Linked DNA regions of Homo sapiens. The protein of the gene in region 1 purifies or fractionates together with the protein of each later gene. This does not show direct contact. Each region holds a gene or a part of one and is shown on either strand. Other genes may lie near its edges. The genes, in order: LRPPRC, LONP1 and WAPL.

What was found.
Region 2: the proteins of LRPPRC (region 1) and LONP1 purify together in Homo sapiens (affinity purification with mass spectrometry; 2 studies listed by BioGRID and IntAct, with this or other methods). This does not show direct contact.
Region 3: the proteins of LRPPRC (region 1) and WAPL purify together in Homo sapiens (affinity purification with mass spectrometry; 2 studies listed by BioGRID, with this or other methods). This does not show direct contact.

Annotation. Positions count from the first base shown.
Region 1 is NC_000002.12:43,971,990-43,979,096, reverse strand, and holds part of LRPPRC (leucine-rich PPR motif-containing protein, mitochondrial precursor), read left to right. Parts: intron 1-1,820; coding exon 1,821-1,942; intron 1,943-2,044; coding exon 2,045-2,103; intron 2,104-2,867; coding exon 2,868-2,954; intron 2,955-3,879; coding exon 3,880-4,006; intron 4,007-4,338; coding exon 4,339-4,483; intron 4,484-4,801; coding exon 4,802-4,947; intron 4,948-5,196; coding exon 5,197-5,302; intron 5,303-5,382; coding exon 5,383-5,490; intron 5,491-7,107. UniProt on the Homo sapiens protein: May play a role in RNA metabolism in both nuclei and mitochondria. In the nucleus binds to HNRPA1-associated poly(A) mRNAs and is part of nmRNP complexes at late stages of mRNA maturation which are possibly associated with nuclear mRNA export.
Region 2 is NC_000019.10:5,717,040-5,724,726, forward strand, and holds the start of LONP1 (lon protease homolog, mitochondrial isoform 1 precursor), read right to left. Parts: upstream 3,108-7,687; 5' UTR 3,094-3,107; coding exon 2,665-3,093; intron 1-2,664. Other genes in the region: CATSPERD (cation channel sperm-associated auxiliary subunit delta), read left to right, coding at 3,699-3,769. UniProt on the Homo sapiens protein: ATP-dependent serine protease that mediates the selective degradation of misfolded, unassembled or oxidatively damaged polypeptides as well as certain short-lived regulatory proteins in the mitochondrial matrix.
Region 3 is NC_000010.11:86,469,738-86,476,844, forward strand, and holds part of WAPL (wings apart-like protein homolog), read right to left. Parts: intron 4,237-7,107; coding exon 4,141-4,236; intron 3,028-4,140; coding exon 2,875-3,027; intron 2,608-2,874; coding exon 2,471-2,607; intron 1,367-2,470; coding exon 1,255-1,366; intron 1-1,254. UniProt on the Homo sapiens protein: Regulator of sister chromatid cohesion in mitosis which negatively regulates cohesin association with chromatin. Involved in both sister chromatid cohesion during interphase and sister-chromatid resolution during early stages of mitosis.

The DNA.
Region 1 (7,107 bases):
CAATTTAATGTTCATTCCTGATTTAAAAAAATCTTAAAGTATAGAAAGATGCTTCTTTAATGTGTTAAAAATCTAAAACCGACAACAATCATGTATAATGCAATGAAATAAGATGTGAAACAATACAAGAAGTTATTATTTTTAGATGATGTGATTGTTTAATCTGCAAAATCCCAGAAAATCAGCTCACAGTAATTAGCTGGACTCACTAAATGTTTAAGAATCCATACCTCTTCTAGTTATAAAAGAAAATAGAGAAAAGAATCCAAGAAAGTATAGCTACAGATAAATAAAATATTTAGGACTATCCTTCAAAAAGTGAGTAGGACCTATGTGAAAAAAACTACAGGATAAAGACAGATTCTTCCTTCACAGTTTTGAATACATCTAGAATACATTTTGATAAGTTGATTTTTTTTTAAGTTAAAAACTATATAGATAAATGTTGACTTTCAGAATGGAAAAGGATTTTATAAGTATAAAAGGAGCAGAAAAGTAAAGCTAAAATATTGAATCTCTAAAAATTAGAAATTTCTGTATGTCAGTAAGTCATTGAACTGGGAGAAATATATGCAGAAAAGGTTACATTCTAAAATAGAAAAAAGCATTACACAGCAGTAATAACATTAATTCCTCCATATAAAGATTAACAATGTGTTATTATATTAACATTCTTTACAGATAGGTCTCTCCTGTATAAGTGTCTGCTTTATAAGGATGGAATCCATGGCTTCTTTATTTTCCTGTTTGACAGTAGCATGATGCTTTGTGTATAATGGCATTTGATACATACTTGTTGAATTAATATTGCCAGAAACCTTGTAGTTTGCCAGTTTGACTCTTGTTTACAGATTTATAAAGATACAAGAGATCTTTTAGCTTAAGTAACTTGTCCAAAATTACAGAATGAGCTGTTGACAGATCTGAGCTATCTGTAAGATGGGGCTGATAATAGTGTCTCAAAGTTGTTGTGAAGTTTGAGTGAGCCACTATATGTGGAACACTTAGCATAGTGCCTGAAACATAGTATGAAAGAAACATATCTGTTAAGATAAAAATGTGTATTAATTTAATGGAACAGCTCTCTGCTGCCTAAAATCACATACTCTCACCCCCAGATACTAACCATAGGCCTGTATGGTCACAGGCAGTTGAATAAAGATGTGAAATTTAATGCATGAAAATGTAGTGAGACATGTTACCACAAAATTGATATAAAGACCATGATGTCATGACTCAGTAGAGTAAGGCTGTGTGGTAACCTTATTTGATGTGGCCCTAAACAGTAGGGATACAAAGAAAACAAAGGTCATTAGAATACAGATAATTAACAAGAGCATACCATAGATCATGTTCATCAGCTGAAAATGGAATGCATCCTTAAAATGAAGGCTTTGAGTGACAGAATTGCCAGCACAGTCCTACTGTGTGAAAGAACTGAAGTTACAATCCATTCTTCACAGTGTGTCTGTAATGTGAGGACTGCTTTATATAGAAAAATCTTACAGTCACTTTTAAATATAGGGATATTGTCAGCGTTTTCTAACAGGAAGATAATTTTGTGCTTCATAAGTAAGAGGCCTTTTAATATCCGAATAGGCAGTTACTTGTAACTATACAGTAACTCAGTAATTACTGTCTTACATGCTTAGCTTGCTCTGTGTGACAGAGTATCTGTGTAGATAGGTCTGAGCGCCAAGATGGATGGGTGAAATGCTAAAGTGATAGTTTTACTCTTTTTGTTTGTTAAATTTAGGTCCACTTTAAAGCATAGGATTTTCAATGCTTTTCTAAAAATTCATTTTAAATTTCATTTGTAGGTGCTGTGTATGATGTGAGTCACTATAATGCTTTACTTAAAGTCTATCTTCAAAATGAATATAAATTCTCACCAACTGATTTCCTGGCAAAAATGGAGGAAGCAAACATTCAACCAAATCGAGTAAGTAGTTGCTATTGTGAATATATTTTCACATCCACCATTTTTTTTCTTTACTCAGAAAAAAAAGTATATTTAAAATTAACTGGCCCATTTCATTGACAGGTGACATACCAGAGATTGATTGCTTCTTATTGTAATGTAGGAGATATTGAAGGTGCCAGGTATGGATCTGTATGAACATGTTTAAGCGAACAAATTTGTACATTTTGTAAATCTAATGTCTGTTCACTCTTTGTTTTAAAGCTTCTTCCTAATGGAGGAAATTGTTTCAGAACTGTTTTAATCTAGAAAATCTGGTAATCTGACTTACATAAAATATAAAATTATCGTGTAAGAGAGAAAAGATAAGTAAAAGTTGCTATTTTAATTAAAAATTTGATTTACTGGAGAGAGGTATAAAGTTGTTGAGCTATAAAGCTGACTTTGCTTTTTTTTTTTTTTTTTTAAATATTTCCTAAGGGAAATGTTCTTAACCATTTAAGCTGTATTCATTTATAAAACTGGAAGTAGTGTAGAAAATCAGTTGCACCATTTCTCTGCTTATGTAAAATTTATTACTACTTATGAATGGAAGGTTTGGAAAATAAGGGATAAATTGGAATACATAATTTCATTTTTATCTAAAAGAATCTTATGAAACTATGCTTTTAAAAGGGTAATTAGTAGTGTAAGACAAATCAGATAATCAGATTTTTAAAAATCTAGTATTTGTATCGATAGTACTTCAAGACTGTTGATACATTAGAGAGTGGGGTTTTGTGGGAAGGGGATCAAAGGGATTAGTTCTTTCTTTGTGGTTTCTAAAACAAATGTATATTACTATTATATTTTAAAAACAAAAGTAACTCAAGGCCTAATTCTGTACATGTTGTAAAGAGTGTTCTTATAAATACTTTCAATGAGTATCTTCGTTTTTCCTTTGCAGCAAGATTCTTGGATTTATGAAAACTAAGGATCTCCCAGTTACAGAGGCAGTATTCAGTGCCCTTGTGACAGGGCATGCCAGAGCTGGGTAATGTTCAACCTAAGGTTTTGGTTCTTAAGTGATAGATGGCTGAGATGCTAAAGTGGTCATTTTACTCCTTTTTTGTTTGTTAAGTGGGGTTTAAATTAGAGAAAATTATTGTAGACAGTTCTTAAAATACATTTGTCTATCCCTTCAAAAAAAAATCTGTAGTATATGAGGTAGAGCATACTAATATTTTTATAATGAGCTTTTACATTTGTTCCACAAATCTTTCTTTTATTTGAATTTTTAGAAATTGGGCTTGAAGCCGGGCGTGGTGGCTCATGCCTGTAATCCCAGCACTTTGGGAGGCTGAGGTGGGCAGATCACCTGAGGTCAGGAGTTCAAGACCAGCTTGGCCAACATGGTGAAACCCGGTCTCTACAAAAATATAAAAATTTAGCCGGGCATGATGGCAGGTGCCTGTAATCCCAGCTACTTGGGAGTCTGAGGCAGGAGCGTTGCTTGAACCCGGGAGGCAGAGGTTGCAGTGAGCCGAGATTACACCATTGCACTCCAGCCTGGGAGACAGAGCAAGACTCCATCTCAAAAAAAAAAAAGAAAAAAGAAACTGGGCTTGATCTGATCTGAAGTAACTGCTCTGGAAAATATTTTTATTTTTGAAGAGTAATTTACTAAATGTTATTCTTACCTCGAAAGTTAAGTCTGAGTCATAACCTACATAATATTAAGAGGGTATGTTATTTAATGTCTATGTAATTATTATTATTTTTTAATGGGGGATCAGATGTTTATGATCTTTATTATTTCAGAAACATATATCCAGTTTAATATACATTAGTTCTTTTCTGACATCATAATTCCAAATGGTACTTAGCATTTTTTATTTTAATAAGCATATGTTTTAGTTTGAATAACTATATTAAATTTGGCAAAAGCATAATAATCTGTTTTTTGAATTAACTTGTAGTGATATGGAGAATGCAGAAAACATTCTCACAGTGATGAGAGATGCCGGAATTGAGCCTGGTCCAGACACATACCTCGCATTATTGAATGCATATGCTGAGAAGGGCGACATTGACCATGTTAAGCAGGTATGACTTATGTCTAAATAAACATACTTTAAAATCATTTGTAAAAATTTGTGTTATGTTTTACATGAGGCAGGAAAGTGAAGTTTATACCTGTTTTCAAAGATGTTTCCTTGCAGAAAGTAGTATTTATGGAGAATTATTATAGTTTAGTATCTCGGTGCTGGTATGTAACAGTTACTGTTGAAGTAGAGTATTTCCTGTTTTTTAAAAGAAGTCGTAAACCTTTAGGTGGTATTTTTCCCTAGTTTTTTGAATCTGGATATTTTATTTAGCTTTAATACTTAAATAAAAACACTCTAACTTTGTCTTCTAATTTCTGGAACTCTCTATAGACTCTGGAGAAGGTGGAGAAGTCCGAGCTTCACCTTATGGACCGTGATTTACTGCAAATTATTTTTAGCTTCAGTAAAGCTGGGTATCCTCAGTATGTCTCAGAAATTTTGGAAAAAGTTACATGTGAAAGAAGATATATTCCAGGTAGTTTTAAAAAAATCTATTTACATGATTTTTATAAAAATCTGAATTGCTATTCTTACATGATGGAAAGGACATTTTCTAACAATGGGCATTGTGGGAGTTGAACATAGAACTCTTAAAGTCAGTTAAATAAGCCCAAAAACATGAGTTAATGAACACATGGGGATGATTTGATTTGCAGGTGTTTTATTGTTATTTAGGCAGTTATATGCTTTTGATGTTTGCAATTCTTATTTTGTCTTCAGTATTGGAACATTGGTTGCAGTGTAAAAATATTGTTCAGTTTATTAACAAAAGATGTCTTTGTTTTCTTCCCAGATGCAATGAACCTCATTTTACTTTTAGTCACTGAAAAATTGGAAGATGTAGCGTTGCAAATTTTACTAGCATGCCCCGTATCAAAGGAAGATGGCCCAAGTGTCTTTGGCAGTTTCTTTTTACAACACTGTGTGACTATGAATACGGTATTCTGTCCACTTTTACTTTGTAGACAATGTAATTGGCAGTGAAATAAGATTCTTTAAAGTATAGGAACATTTATAAGATTAGACCAGTTGTAAACATCATAACAATGTTCTTGTGTTGCAAGATTTTTGGGTAGAAAGAGGATGCGGGGTTTAAAATGCTCATCTCAGAAGTGGTAGAATATTTGCAGCAGGTCAAACGGTGGGGTGTTTGCCAATCCAGCTAATGTGGTGACTTTTTTCCCACAGCCTGTGGAGAAGCTAACAGACTACTGTAAGAAGTTAAAGGAAGTCCAGATGCACTCCTTTCCTCTGCAGTTCACCCTCCATTGTGCTTTACTCGCCAATAAAACTGGTACTACATTCTTAAAGTTAAAGCCAAGTAAGGAAGTTTTGCTGAGGTAGCTTTGTGATCTTTTATGATATCTCTTTCAGATTTGGCAAAAGCCTTAATGAAGGCTGTGAAGGAGGAAGGTTTTCCTATCAGACCTCACTATTTCTGGCCATTGCTAGTTGGACGTCGGAAGGAAAAAAATGTTCAAGGTTAGATTTTGCCTTTTACCGATTTGTAATGGTTCCCAGAGCCAGTATGACAGTTTGCACGCACATCTAATTGGATTCTTTGGAAAAGCATACTTATTCCTGAGTATTATGAGATAATGGAATTGTTTTAAGTCATCATGAAGTATTATGTGTAAGCATTTTAAAAAACAAAACATGATGGATTTCTTTCATCTGAATTTCATTAATTTCATTTCTTATTTCATCTCTGATCTTGATATTCAAACTTAATGAACGTAGTTTTTTTAAGTTCTTAAAAAAACTCTTTAGTTCTTGATTTTATATATAGTGTTTGAAATCAGATTGTCTACCTTTAATAAAGATAAAGTTGTATATACAATTAGGTTCATGAAAACAAAAAGTATGGTCATTTTCTTTGTGGGCCAATCTATTTCTTTTTAACTGAGCTTAGTTAGAATAATAGGAAAGGCAGGAAAACTTTTATTGTGAAATGAGTACTCATGACCTGACAGCCTGCTGATTGAAGGACAAAAATGTTCAATCTTTCAGGTTCTTAAGTACGTTTAAGCATTTATCATACTTTTCCCTTGTACACATGGGATGTCTATAGGATATGAATAAGAATTGAACAAATATTAAATTTTAGAGTACAGTATCTAATTCTTCGGTTTGCATTATTGGTAATTCAGAAAGAGTAGTCTCATAAAAAGATGCTTTTAACAGAAGTACTTTCCCCTTGGGGAAACAAAAAATGGTCTTTTTCATTTTATCTCGAAGTATAATGTGCTTTGGAATGAGATGCAGAATTGTTAGTGTGACATTGGGTGACAAACAGAATGCACAAACAACAAAAAAAGTGCTTTTAGCAGACTTTCATATTGCAATTTTATTTTAAATGTACAGCCGTCTTCTGGTTTAAAGGAAATAGTGAAACAAGTATTCCCTAATTGTTTCTGGCTATAAAAGTCTCTAAATCCTTTTTAGAAAAATCTTTGTGAAAACAATATGCTAGTTTGATTAACTCTTTGTATATCCTCCAGTCTGAAAGCTCCAAAAGGTAACCTATAACCCAGTGTTTTGGAACCACAGAAAGTTTACATCATTCCATCAAACTCTTCAGGCATGTTAGTATTGTCCACCTTTACACAAGTATGAAAATTTTTTTGGTACCAGTTGAAATGTTTGTTCATCAGGTTAATCTGCTTTCCACAACCATGTCACAGTTGAATTGATTACTACATTTTTACTACTTAGTAAACATAAAAGAGTTAGGTAATTTCTTTCTATGGTTGTAGCAGTTGAAATAGTAGAAAATGGGCTTTATCTCAAATCCATCTTGTCTTAGAATCTCAGAATTTAGATTTTAAAAGTGCTGTACTGAAAGCTCACATTACGTGAATGAAGGAACTGAGGGCCACACAGACATTCAGTGACTGACCTTAGCTTCCACGTCTAGGTGTGATTAGGCTGGGATTAGAATAGAGGGTTTCTGTCCTCCTTTTAAAATATCCTTTTTTATACTATAACCCTTCCATATTCAGCTTTTGTAAGTACTATACTGTGTTTATTTTCTAAAAATTCTTAGCTGCTGTTTAAAAATTAGTTGCCAGTTTTTACACGAATAACATTGCTAAAAGA
Region 2 (7,687 bases), on another chromosome or scaffold:
CACCTCAGCCTCCCAAAGTGCTGGGATTGCAGGCGTGAGCCACCGCGCCCAGCCCACGAAGTTAGTTTTTAAAAGAAACTAATACTTCTAACACTTATGATTTATTCTTTAATACCCACCAAAAATTAAGAGCCATTGTTCCTTACTCAAAAGTTGCTAATAGGAGAGAAGCTTCTAGAGCAAGTTGGCCAGACAAGTCAAGTACAAACTGAAGAGTAAATCAAGCTTTGCTAACAATTTCAGAAACATTTATTGGGTCCCAAAGAAGTTGCCTCCCAATTTCCCCTCTGCCAACAGCTGATAGCTGCATCCTTGGCATCTGCCTCCTGGCCTTGGCAGGATCCATTTTTATGATTTACAATGCATCATCAACCAGAAATACAATGAGAACCACCTGCCAGTCTCCCAAATACTATCTGCAGCCACTCATTTAACTCTCCTGGCTAGCTCCACGTGGGCCGTCTGAACTCTCTTAGAAGAATCATCTCTCTGCTCAGGCACCGGGAGCAAGGGGCATCTGTCGCTCTGCAGAACGGAGGGGACCAGGCCTGATGAACACCATCCTGGGCCCAGAAACCTGGGAGGGTAAAGAGAACTGCCAGGGGTGAAGTCAAGGATGGGAAAAAGGCCTCCGGGGCAGAGTCCTGAAATGTCAGAAGTACACCAAAGAGGAAACAGCATCACGTTATTGCTGAGGCAGGGCCTCATTCTGTTGCCCAGGCTGCAGTGCAGTGGTGACACCATGGCTCACTGCAGCCTTGATCTCCCAGTTTCAAGTGATCCTCCTGCCTCAGCCTTCCAAGTAGCTGGGAAGACAGGTGCATGCCACTGTGCCCGGCTTTTCTTTCTTTCTTTTTTTTTTTTTTTTTGTAGAGACAGGGTCTATGTTGACCATACTGGTTTCAAATTATGCTCCTGCCTCAGCCTCCCAAAGTGCTGGGATTAAACATGTGAGACACCGTGCCCAGCCCACATGGCCTCATTTAAATCCCACAACAACTCTAATAAGACACTAATATGTCCAGGTCACAGATGAGAAGAGGGAAGCCAAAGGAATAACTTGCTGAAGGTTATGGAGCTAGGATAGGACCCCACAAGGTCTTGCTCTGGGGGCCTGCATCAGTAACCAGTACTCAACATCAAGGAAAGGCCTTGGGGCCGGGCGCAGTGACTCGCACCTGCAATCCCAGCACTTTGGGAGGCTGAGGCGGGTGAATCACTTGAGGTCAGGAGTTCGAGACGAGCGTGGGCAACATGGTGAAACCCTGTCTCTTCTAAAAATAGAAAAATTAGCCAGCCACGGTGGCGGGCGCCTGTAATCCCAGCTACTCAGGGGGCTGAGGCAGGAGAATCACTTGAACCCGGGAGGCAGAGGTTGCAGTGAGCTGAAATCGCGCCACTGCACTTTAGCCTAGATGACAGAGTGCAACTTGGTCTCAAAAAAAAAAAAAAAAAAATCTTGGAGCAGCGTTGGAGAAGCTCCCTCTGTCCCCTCTCTACTGGCTGCTGCCCCTCTGAAATGGCCTTTCCCTTCCCAACAGATCCTTGAGATTTGTTTAGAAGAGTCTGGAGAGTGAGCGCAGAGGCTGACTCACTGCGTGACCTTGCTCTGCCAGTTAGGAGATAACCTTCCCATAGATGCCACTTTCCACATCAGTAGTTTTTTTTTTTAAGGGAAGGGGAGCTGGGGGAGAAGGCTTTTGGGGCCTTCCTACTGTAAAAGCTCAAGTTCCTTACACTCACTGCTTTCTCTCTATTACATCATCCTGCTCCCTCCCCACCCCCAAGGCTCTTAGTCTGAAATGATCTAATTTCTACCACCGGAATGACTTGTTCTCTACAGTATTCTCAGAACTTGCTACGTGGTAGGAGGTCAAGAACACACTGAATAACCCACCTCTTCCCACCCTCCTAAGCCTCCTGTCCCATCCATGCTCTACTATTTCTCGTAATTATTGCCTTCTAATACAATATCGTTACTAAACATCTTTATTGCCTGTCTCATCCTGCCAAAATGTAAGCTCCAAGGCAGATTTATTTTTTAAGAGACAGGGTCTCGCCATGTTGACCAGGCTGGACTCCAGGTTTCCAACAATCCTTCCACCTCAGCCGCCAGAGTAGCTGGGAGTACAGCGCGCGCCACCATGCCCAGCTTCAAAGGCAGAAATTTTTGTCTGTTTTGTTCACTGCCATATCCCCAGAACCTAGAACACTCTCTGGCAAATAATAAGCAATCAAGAAGTATTTGTCTAAGAAAGGAATGAATTCTGATCCCAGTGAGGCTCGTAACCAGACGGCAGAGCGCCTGGGGCGAGGAGGTATTACAAAACTCGTGCCAAGTAAGGAGAAAACTAACAGCGCCGTAACACTACTCAGGTCCCTCCCGGCCCCGGATTTCTATGACCGGCGTTCTAAAGTGGATAATCCTAGGCTCATCGGGTTCAACTCCTCTCATCTAACGGATCCTAAGAAATCCGAAAGGGAGAGGACTTTGGCTCAAGGTTCCCAAGCTAGTGGTGAGCAGACAAGGATTCGAACTGCACCCTTCGAGAAACTTCATGTCTGAAAAAGTTGCGAAACACAAGGGCGCTCAAGTGATCCCACGGTTCAGCCCGCTGCTTGCACAGGTGGGAAACCTGAGGCCGAGGCGGGGACTCCCATTACCTCGATAATCTTGATAAAGCGCGGGAACACCGGGTTGCGGGTGATGGCGATGAGCGGCAGGTGCGGAAACACATCGGGGATCGTCATGGGCGTGAGCGCCGTTATGACCGGGCCTTCCCCGGCGCCCGCGCTGCCCCCCGCGCCGCCGGCTCCTTCCTCCGCGCCGCCCTCGGAGGCGTCCTCGCCCCCCGAGAATGCGCCTCCGCCGCGGCTGCTCGCTTCCCAAAACCCCCGCCATTGGCCCCCAATTGCCGGGCCTCGGCCCCACAGTGCCCAAGGAGGAGAGGCGTCGCAGGTCCGCTGGCCTCGGAGCAACCACGCTCCTGCTGCAGTGGGAACCCGCCCCCCGGCGGCGGCCAGCATCGGCCGCCGCAGCACCCAGCACCGCGCCGCTCCCCACAGTCGCACGTAGCCAGTGCTCGCCGCCATAGCCCGGCCATACTGGCGGCTCACACAACTCGCGTCATTTCCGCTCGCCGCGAAACGCACGTGACGCCCGGCGCGTGCCTCGGTACCCGATGGGCGCGTGGCTCGAAACAGCCGCTTCAGGGAGCTGGGCCTACGCGGAGAAGAGGGGGCGGAGTTCGAGCATCGGATCGTCTCCGCCTCTTCCGGTCTCCCACTTTATGCGCTGAAGGCCTTTTCCGGTCACGTGGAAGGCTGTGAGCAGGCGCCAGCGCCCGTACAAAACACTGGTAGTGTTGCAAACGCAACGTTTAGGAACTCATGAGCAGCCTGTGCACATGCTTAGGCGCGCGGACAACATGCGCATGCTCAGACTCTAGACTGGCCACGGGTGGCCGGGTGCGCATACTCAGGCTCTGAGCGCACTTTGGGGTGCGCGGATTCGGGCTTCCCGGGATTCGTCTGCGCATGCTCAAGATTCAGGCGGAGCGCCGGGCTGCAGTGCGCGGAGGCCCGCTCCCGGGACTCATTGATGCGCATGCGCAGGGCTTCAGCCTGCACGTACTCGGATTGTGCAGCGACTCCCCGTGGCGGTTGAGGGGCAGTGGTGGCGGCGGAAGCCCAAGTCGATGCTGATGTTGATGCTGGTGGCGGCTGTGACCATGTGGCTCCGACCGCTGGTCACAGCTCAGCTCTGTCGGTGGGGCTGCCAGGACTCCTGGGGCTGGGGTGCTGCCGGGGGTCGGGAGGGTGCTGGTTCATCTTGGAGCCGAGGCCTGCTCCCCAACCTCACTGAGGCTCCCCTTTTACTCTTTTTAGGAATCGAACTTGACGCCTCGCTCACCCTACTCCACCCCATCCTCCCAGCCCGATATTAAGCTCTCCTACCTCTTTTTTTTTTTTTTTTTGAGACGGAGTCTCGCTCTGTCGCCCAGGCTGCAGTGCAGTGGCGCGATCTCGGCTCACTGCAAGCTCCGCCTCCCGGATTCACGCCATTCTCCTGCCTCAGCCTCCTGAGTAGCTGGGACTACAGGCGCCTGCCACCACGCCCGGCTAATTTTTTTTTGTATTTTTAGTAAAGACGGGGGTTTCACCGTATTAGCCAGGATGGTCCCGATCTCCTGACCTCGTGACCCGCCTGCCTCGGCCTCCCAAAGTGCTGGGATTACAGGCGTGAGCCACCACGCCGGGCCTAGCCCTCCCACTTCTTTTTCTTTTTGGAGCCGGAGTTTTTGCTCTGTTTCCCAGGGTGGAGTGCAGTGGCGCGATCTCTGCTCACTGCAACCCCCGCCTCCCAAAGTGCTGGGATTGCAGGCGTGAGCCACCGCGCCCAGCCTTACCCAGCACATTTTGAAATTTCAGTAAATGTTAGGTTAGTGCATACTCCAACCTGCCATGGGGACCAGTTGCTGAAACTCCGTTCCTGCCCTCAGGGAACTCCCATCTGGACTAAACTGTCACATTCAGTAGGGACCTGTGAGCTGTATTCTTAGGGTGTATGGCCTCATTTGATGTTTACAGGAAGATTCATAATGATTCCTTAACCTTATTTTATTTTATTTATTATTATTTTTTGTACAGATGGGGTCTCACTGGCTGGGTGCAGTGGCTCACGCCTGTAATCCCAACACTTTGAGAGGTAGAGGTGGGCAGATCACTCACTTGAGGTCAAGAGTTCCAGACCAGCCTGGCCAACATGATGAAACCTCGTCTCTACTAAAAATACAAAAATTAGCCAGGCTTGGTGGCAGGTGCCTGTAATCCCAGCTACTTGGGAGGCTGAGGCAGAAAAATCGCTTGAATTCAGGAGGTGGAGGTTGCAGTGAGCTGAGATCGCACTCCAGCCTGGGTGACAAAGGGAGACTCTGTCTCAAAGGAAAAAAAAAAAAAAAGAGATGGGGTCTCACTGTTTTGCCCAGGCTGGTCTTGAACTCCTAGGCTCCAGTGATCCTCCTGCCTCAGCCTCCCAAAGTGTTGGGATTACAGGCATGAGCCACCCATGCCCAGCCATACCCTTATTTTATTTTTTTGAGATGGAGTCTTGTTCTCGTCGCCCAGGCTGGAGTACAATGTCACGGTCTCGGCTCACTGCAACCTCCGCCTCCCAAGTTCAAGCAATTCTCCTGCCTCAGCCTCCAGAGTAGTTGGGATTATGGGCGCCTGCCACCACGTGCAGCTAATTTTTTGTGTTTTTAGTAGAGACAGGGTTCCACCATGTTGCCCAGGTTGGTCTCGAACTCCTGACCTCGTGATTCACTTGCCTCGGCCTCCCAACGTGCTGGGCTTACAGGCGTGTGCCACCGCGCCCGGCCAACACCCTTATTTTATAGATACGAAAGCATACTTAGGAAAGTTAAAGACACACTTGCCTAACAACACATACCTAGTAAGTGGGAGAAACATTTTCCAGTGAAATTTACTAATAGGATTTGTCTCGAGTTCTGAAAATGTGGGTTATATCCAGTTCTCTCATTTCCCCACACAGGCTCTCAAAGAATGGTCCCTGGACCAGCAGCATCAAGATCACCTGGAATTTATTATAATTGGTTAGAAATGCAGTTCCCTGGACCTACTGAGTCGGGGACTTGGCAGTGGGACCCAGCAAACGGTGGTTTATCAAGACCCCCCCCCCCGCAACCCCGGTGATTCTGATGCATATTCAAGATTGAGCACCTCTGCTGTAAACTATACCATCCTTCCAGTCACCACACACTCCCTTAAGGAGCCCCGAATACCTTGTTGCAGGACTTCATAATTTTCCTCAGCTGGGGTCTGTGAAGGAGCCTTTAGAAATTCTTGGCCGGGCGCGGGGGCTCACGCCTGTAATCCCAGCACTTTGGGAGGTGGAGGCGGGCGGATCACGAGGTCAGGAGATCGAGACCATCCTGGCTAACACGGTGAAACCTCGTCTCTACCAAAAATACAAAAAATTAGTCGGTGTGGTGGCGGGCGCTTGTAGTCCCAGCTACTCGGGAGGCTGAGGCAGGAGAATGGCGTGAACCCGGGAGGTGGAGCTTGCAGTGAGCTGAGATCGCGCCACTGCACTCCAGCCTGGGCGACGGAGCGAGATTCTGTCTCAAAAAAAAAAAAAAGAAAAAGAAAAAGAAAAAAGAAATTTTCAGAAATCATTTCTACATTTTGTGTGTACTTATGTCTGTTTCTGGGAGAGGAGTTTCATACAAATTTTATTTTTTGACGGAGGCTTGCTCTGTCGCCCAGGCTGGAGTGCAGTGTGGCAAGAGCTCAACTCACTGCAACCTCTGCCTCCAAGGTTCAAGCGATTCTAGTGCCTCAGCCCTCAGCCTCCTGAGTATCTGGGATAACAGGCGCCCGCCACCCTGCCCAGCTAATTTTTTTTTTTTTTTTTTTTTTTTGAGACGGAGTCTCGCTCTGTTGCCCAGGCTGGAGTGCAATGGCGCCATCTCGGCTCACTGCAAGCTCTGCCTTCTGGGTTCACACCATTCTCCTGCCTCAGCCTCCCGAGTAGCTGGGACTACAGGTGCCGCAACCACGCCCGGCTAATTTTTTTGTGTTTTTAGTAGAGACGGGGTTTCACCGTGTTAGCCAGGATGGTCTCGATCTCCTGACTTCGTGATCCACCCGCCTCGGCCTCCTAAAGTGCTGGGATTAACAGGCGTGAGCCACCACACCTAGCCTGTTTTGTTTTGTTTTTGTTTTTTTTTTTGAGATGGAGTTTCACTCTTGTTGCCCGGGCTGGAGTGCAATGGTGCAATCTCAGCTCACCATAACCTCCGCCTCCCGGGTTCAAGCGATTCTCCTGCCTCAGCCTCCTGAGTAGCTGGGATTACAGGCATGCGCCACCACACGCTAATTTTGTATATTACAGGCTAATTTTGTATATTTAGTAGAGACAGGGTTTCTCCGTGTTGCTCAGGCTGGTCTCGAAGTCCCAACCTCAGGTGATCCACCCGCTTTGGCCTCCCAAAGTGCTGGGATTACAGGTGTGAGCCACCGTGCCTAACTTTTTTGTATTTTTAGTAGAGACGAGATTTCACGATGTTGGCCAGGCTGATCTCGAACTCCTGACCTCAGCTGATCCACCCACCTTGACCTCCCAAAGCGCTGGGATTACAGGTGTGAGCCACCGCACCTGGCTCTAATTTTCGTATTTTCAGTAGAGATGGGGTTTCACCAAGTTGGCCAGGTTGGTCTTGAACTGCTGACCTCAAGTGATCCACCTGCCTCGGCCTCCCAAAGTGCTGGGATTAAAGACATAAGCCACCACGCCCAGCCTCATCCAATTTTCTAGGGCCTCCTATAACCCGAAAAGCATCAGGAACAGATACTTGGCTGGGCGCAGTGGCTCACGCCTGTAATCCCAACACTTCGGGAGGCCAAGGCAGGCAGATCACGAGGTCAGGAGTTCAGGACCAGCCTGGCCAATGTGGTGAAACCCTATCTCTACTAAAAATATAAAAAATTAGCTAGGTGTTGTGGCGCGCGCCTGTAATCCCAGCTACTCTGGCGGCTGAGGCAGGAGAAACACTTGAATCTGGGAGGCGGAGGTTGCAGTGAGCCAAGATCTTGCCACTGCACTCCAGCCTGGGCGACAGAGTGAGACTCCGTCCCCCCCAAAAAAGAACAGATACTTTAGGGT
Region 3 (7,107 bases), on another chromosome or scaffold:
GCATCAGACCAGGTGTCTGATTAAATGTTTATACAGCAAATTATTTTTGGAAATTAGGATGCATTGTAAAGGCCATGGGGGATCCACTGCCCTTAAAAATCACACTGTAATGTCTAAGTTCACTGTTAACTGCATAACAAAGCAAACGAATTCTCTTTTTTGTTTGTTTTTAAGAGATGAGGTCTCACTAGGTTTCCCAAAATGGATCTGAACTCCTGAGCTCAAGAGATCCTCCCTTAGTCTCCAGAGTAGCTAGGACTTACGAATGCACACCACCTTGCCCAGCAACAAACTAACTTCTTTTTTTTTTTTTGAGACAGAGTCTCGCTCTGTCTCCCAGGCTGGAGTGCAGTGGCACAACCTCAGATCACTACAACCTCCACCTCCCGGGTTCAAGCAATTCTCCTGCCTCAGCCTCCCAAGTAGCTGGGATTACAGGTGCCTGCCACCACACCCAGCTAATTTTTTGTATTTTTAGTAGAGTCAGGATTTTACCATGTTGGCCAGGCTGATCTCAAACTCCTGACCTGAGATGATCTGCCCACTTTGGCCTCCCAAAGTGCTGGGATTACAGGCATGAGCCACCGCGCCCAGCCCAGAAGATGCAGTATTAAATTAATTATCACCTAATCTGTATTTAGAACATAATTTCTTTAACAAAAATATAGTAAGGCCATCTCAAAATACTACTAATGCTAATAATTAGCAATGATGGTTACTTTCTTCTAATTTTGGAAAATGTTAAACCTAATAACTTTTGTTATGTTTATCATTATGCAAAAGCATCAAAGGCAAGGAAAATGAAGAAATTATTCCTTATCACAATGAGGCCATGTTCCAGATTCAACACTGGACAAAAACGTTTCTAAAAAATTAGGGCTGCATTTCCAAACCAGTTTTTTTCCATTCATTAGTATCAAATAATATTAAAAGATTCTTCTCAGTGCTTTCTGATTATAGAGAAAATTATGCTTACAAAATTCTGTATCAATATACTACATTAGCTAAGATAACAAAATACAATTTTAAAAGTATAAAATGACACATTAAGAAAAAATGTTTTCACGTTTTCATGATAAAATAAGTATTAAGCAAAAGCTTCTGGCCATAAGCACTACAAATTTAGCAAATAAAATGAACTCAATCTATAATTAGGATATATTTATAGAATATTCAGTGAAGATATTTTTGATAGCCAAATAGACTAGTAGTTTTCAACATAAGGCTTCTCAATCTCAGAAACTTAAAAAATACCTGATGGTGCTGGGAATCATCCAAGGTTTTAAAGACCATTGCTACCATCCCATGTGCTCTCAGGTGCATTCGAAAACTGGGCATGGCACATTTAGTAGCCAAGCTAATAACACTACAAGAAAATAGAGCAGGTTAGGGGGGCTGGAAACAGCTAGTACATTAGTTTTGAGTTTGTGTAATACCAAAACCAGCAAATAGGAAGGGGGTAAAAGGGTCAAAGCATTGCCCATACATGATCACAATATAAAAACCATAGGCAAAACACATTATTAAAAATATACTGATGCCTAGTGCATGATTAGGTACACTGTATTTTAAAAAAATAACGTAATTGTCTTTAGTGCATTCCTTACGTTACTACTACCACCATTAAAAGCTTAAAATCTGAGCTGCCTTTCATTAATACTTCTGATAAAAATCACAATTAATTAATTATATTTGATTGGATATACTCCAAATGACTGAAAAATTTAATCAAAATTATAGTATTCAATCAATCCATTAGGAAATACAAAAGATCATCTTTTTGAGCATTTGGGTACAAATGTAAGCGTCCAGATCACAATATGCTTAAATAAATCTAACTTATTACTTGAACATCAGAGGTAAAAAGAACTTAAAAGATTTTTTTTTAATTATTTACTTTATTTCTTTCTGGTAATTTTTTCTTTCTTGTTTTTGGAGACAGGGCCTCACCTCACTCTATCATCCAGGCTGGAGTGCAGCAGCATGATCACGGGCTCAAGCCATCCTGCCACCTCAGCCTCCCAAGTAGCTGGAACTACAGGCATATGCCACCATGACTCATTAATTTTTTATTTTTTGTAGACATGGGGTCTCACTATGTTGCCCAAGGTGGTCTCGAACTCTTGGACACACATGATCCTCCCAACTTGGCTTCCCAAAATGCTGGGATTATAGGTATGAGCCACCACACAAGGCAAAAAGATGCTTTAGCGTAATTTTTTTTTTTTTTTAAGCTCTTGAAAACTGAAGCCTATGCTATATTAAAAAGGCTCTCATCACCCAGCTTTCCCTCTTATCATGCAGAATCAAATTCTTTATAAAGAAATGGATAGCATTTTAACATATCACTGGCTATACATACTACCCCATCATAACAAAATAAAAAATGTTTGGCTTTTTGGACAACACCTAGTTGAAAAAATTTAATACAGCATGCACATAATTGTAAAATATAAAAATAAGATCTTACCTAAGGCAACGTGTGTTTAGAGGCTGAGTGCTCTTTAAGCCACTTAACAAGTACTCAATGTCATCAGTGAACTCTTGATTTTCACCAAATTCTACAACATCGTTGAAGTGCTTCACGTGCTGAACAACAGTATATAACTGCCAAGAAAAAAAAAGTTCACCCCTTTTTAACTAGGAACTAGCATATTTAAATCTATGGGCTCACTGTACTTTACATAAGTGCATAAAATAGTTCATTAGATGGCAACAAAAATATTTTTAGAACAAGGATGATGGTAGGACAAAAGAAGTTTGTGGTTCAAAACTGAGTATCAGTATACTGATATTTGTTGAAGATATTAAATGGCTAAATGTTACATACAAAAATCTATCAACATGCAGTAAACACTGTATATGGCTGCTTACTTCTTTGTCTTCTCGTCTGCATTTCAGTGCAGTAACTATATCTTGGTAGGGCTGAGTAGGTATTGTCACAGTTTTTATCACTTTGGATGGTGGTGCAGGAGCCTTAAAAACTCCATCATCTTTTTGATTTGGTTCCTTTGAAGACAGCCTCACCTATTAATAAAGGTATTAAATTAGTTGTTCTAAATAAATATATAAAAATAGGAACGTCTCATCTATCTGGCAAATTCAGCTTCAAAAAAAAGTAAATAAAGCTTTTTAAAAAGCAGGGAGCAGGGAGGCCTCTCAAAGGTCTTTAGAAATACTTTGAATTCCATGCACTAACAGGTAAGACATATGTATATCTGCACACAGAAGAACCACTCAAGGATTTCTTCTGGTCTTTTTTAAACTTTTTATTTCACACAATTTGTCGTTTGTCTCTAGTACCATTAGAAAGACTAAAGAACCACAACTGCATGCAAAAATAGCTTTCATAAGCAGAAAGGGACAGGACAGAAAAACCAGACAGAGTCAAAAGAATTTTAGTAGCACAAGAGTGTGAAGTAGTTTAGGGTAAAAATAAATAGCTATAACAGGAGCATGCTATATTACTACTAATATACAAAATGATTTCTTTATACTATCAAAAGGAGTCTAATCAGTTTAAGAAGACAGGGAACTGTACATTATACTTTAGAAAGACTTCTATCCCCAAATTTCTTATTGTTATAAAGAACTAAGTTACTTGATAACTCCAGATGACTGAAGCTTTACTGTTAACCTAGAAATCATGTATGATATTACCAGTCATTCTGGAGAAAATAAGTTGCTAAGAATCTTTTTCCTAATGTTTTGGATTGAAAAGTATTACTAGAATACAGGAAGAGATTTGTCTCTGAAAAGCAAATTAAGCACTGAAAGCCACTTAGAAATATATATAGGATGTAATACACAACATAGCTCTTATACAAACATCAAATATGGACAATCTTGCTCTTAAACACTAAATACTATAAATTCCATGAAATGTGGGTCATGAGTAACAAGAGCCTTATTTTTTATGGCTTTCATTGTTTAACCTAGCAGCACTAGAATTTCTGCTATCTTACTGACAATCCTCAGTTTTCCAATGAATTAAACTGAAACTAATAAGTTTCAGTAAAGAAAGCCAAAATAAACTGTTAAATAGAAAAGTCAAAGATTTACAAATTATGAATTAAAAGAGTAACTGCTTAATTTATAGCTTATTAAAAAACACAAAATAAATAAGTACAGTTCACTTACTGTGACACTCTGAGGTTTTACTACTGGTGGCCCAGGCAGTTCTTCTGAATCTGGATGATTCCAATGTCTGGCATTATATACAGCTTTTGTGGGTGACTAGAGAAATGAGAGAAAGATCAACTGCTTCCATCCTTATAAAAGACTCTCAACTAAAAATCATAAAGAATAATTTATATGCATAAACATGTCCTAGAAACAGCAGGATGGATACTATCTGGGAACAGTCCCACCATAATTCCCATTCTCATGTCTATGGCAAATATAATCACTGTAGTACTAGGTCACAAAATCAGTAATTAGTGCTCTGTGCAACTATGACTAACCAAGAAAAGATGGCACTTGAAAGTAAACCTAGGCCAGACATGGTGGCTCACACCTGCAATCCCAGCACTTTGGGAGGCCAAGGCGGGTGGATCACTTGAGGTCAGGAGTTTGAGACGAGCCTGGTCAACATAGTGAAACCCCATCTCTACTAAAAATAAAAAAAATTAGCTGGGCATGGTGGCAGGCATCTGTAATCCCAGCTATTTGGGAGGCTGAGGCAGGAGAATCACCTGAATCCGGAGGCAGAGGTTGCAGTGAGCTAAGACTGTGCCACTGCACTCCAGCCTGGGTGACAGAGTGAGACTCCGTCTCAAAAAAAAAAAAAAAAGGTAAACCTCTTGCTAGGCTTACTAAGTAATCAACACATTTAACTCAACATGGGCTGGGCATGATGGCTCATGCCTGTAATCCCAGCACTTTGGGAGAGTGAGGAAGGAGGATCACTTGAGTCCAGGAGTTCAAGACCAACCTGGGTGAGCCCCAGAGTTCAAGACCAACCTGGGTGACAAAGCAAGACTCCGTCTCAAAAAAATTTAAAAAATAGTAATGATGATAATAATAATAGTTCAATGGGTTCTTTGGCAAAACTTTATTCTTCCTACTACCAATTCATGCCTCACAATCTTCCAACAATGGGAATCCAGCAGTTTATGACAGACAATGCGCTCATTTAAAGCAAACCACTGCAGCCAGCTGTGTGCCACCACTCAAGAGTTCTCAAATTTTATCAAGGTAAATATAATACATATACCACATATTCCAAGACACAGTGGGATCCAAAAAAGTACCATGTAATAACATACATGATTTCTGCAGCAAAATGTTACACTAAGCAGGACAAAGATGTAAAGTCCCTCACACATCAATTGAGGTTATTGTGCTGCCCTATCAATTTACTTAAACTTCCAGGGGATTTTCAGTTTTAACACTGAATTTCCGAATTGAGAATAAATGACAGTAAACCTACAAAATCAAATCAAGTAAAAGAACAAAACCCTCACTTTCAAGAGAAAACTGCATAATTACAAAGACAAAATAGAAAGGTAACACCTCATCCTCTCTATCCTCTACAAAAGTGACGTTAAATTATGTTTTGAACTTCAAATACATGGTTTGGACAAATTAGAGATTTTCTCTTATGAAACACATCTTATTTTCAGTACAACAAAAATAAGAAGACAAGTGGAAAATCATACTTCAAGACCGTCAAAAAATCTACATTAAAAAACTTAACTATATCCCCTTACTAGCTGCACTGAAGCAACATAATTAGCATTAAGCATTAGTGTGAACTAATCGTTAGCTTTTAATATATTATCTCTAATAAAGTGGAAAAATTCTCATTTGGATTGTGTACACAAACCCATCATTCATAAATGCCAGGTTTGCATAACATGATGATGCATTAGCAATCTGAAACAATTTATGCACTCATGCAATGACTTGATCTGGCTTCCTGAGACACAACACATAAAGTGGACTGAACATAAATTTTAAAACCAACCTCTCTATTCCTTCCATTCTTTTCAAAGACCAGCTATGTAACTTGTGTGTCTGCTAGTTATGGATCCCTAATTTGAACTACCTTTAGTACCTCAAGCATACTCAGAGCCCAGGCTCTGGTAACAACAGCCTTTTGGCAAGAATGAGTGCCTCAAAGCTCAAGCATTTTACTTCTTTTTAAAAAGCATTGATTGGGCTAGGCACAGTGGCTCATGCCAGTAATTGCAGCACGCCTCTAGGCCGAGGCAGGAAGCAGATCACTTGAAGCCAGGAGTTCACAACAGCCTGGGCAAGAAAGCAAGATCCTGTCTCTACAAAAAATAAAATTAAAGAAATTAAAGAAGCAAAAAGAGAAATTATTTTTAAAAAGCACTGACTAGGCCGGGCACGGTGGCTTACGCCTGTAATCCCAGCACTTTGGGAGGCTGAGGCGGGCGGATCACGAGGTCAGGAGATTGAGACCATCCTGGTTAACACGGTGAAACCCCGTCTCTACTAAAAATACAAAAAATTAGCGGGGCACGGTGGTGGGCACCTGCAGTCCCAGCTACTTGGGAGGCTGAGGGAGGAGAATTGCTAGAACCCGGGAGTCGGAGGTTGCAGTGATCTGAGATGGTGCCATTGCACTTCAGCCTGGGCGACAGAGCGAGACTCTGTCTCAAAAAATTAAAACACTGTAAGAGTGCCTGAAAGAATATGTGCTGTCGGGTGTGGTGGCTCACGCCTGTAATCCCAGCACTTTGGGAGGCCAAGGCAGGCGGATCGACTGAGGTCAGGAGTTTGAGACCAGCCTGGCCAACAGGATGAAACCCCGTCTCTACTAAAAATACAAAAATTAGCCAGGCATGGTGGTGAGTAACTGCAGTACCAGCTACTCAGGAGGCTGAGGCGGGAGAATCAGTTGAACCCGGGAGGTGGAGGTTGCAGTGAGCCGAGATTGCGCCACTGCACTCCAGCCTGGGCGACAAAGCGAGACTGTCTTTAAAAAAAAAAAAAAAAAAGTGCTTTGTAAGTATTAAATGTTATTATTAATTGTTATGTGATGATGTGCTGCTAGGTTTAAGTCTAACACATTCGTAAGAAAACAGAAATATATAGCCTACCTACCTAATAAAGAATATGATAAACAAATGGAATAAC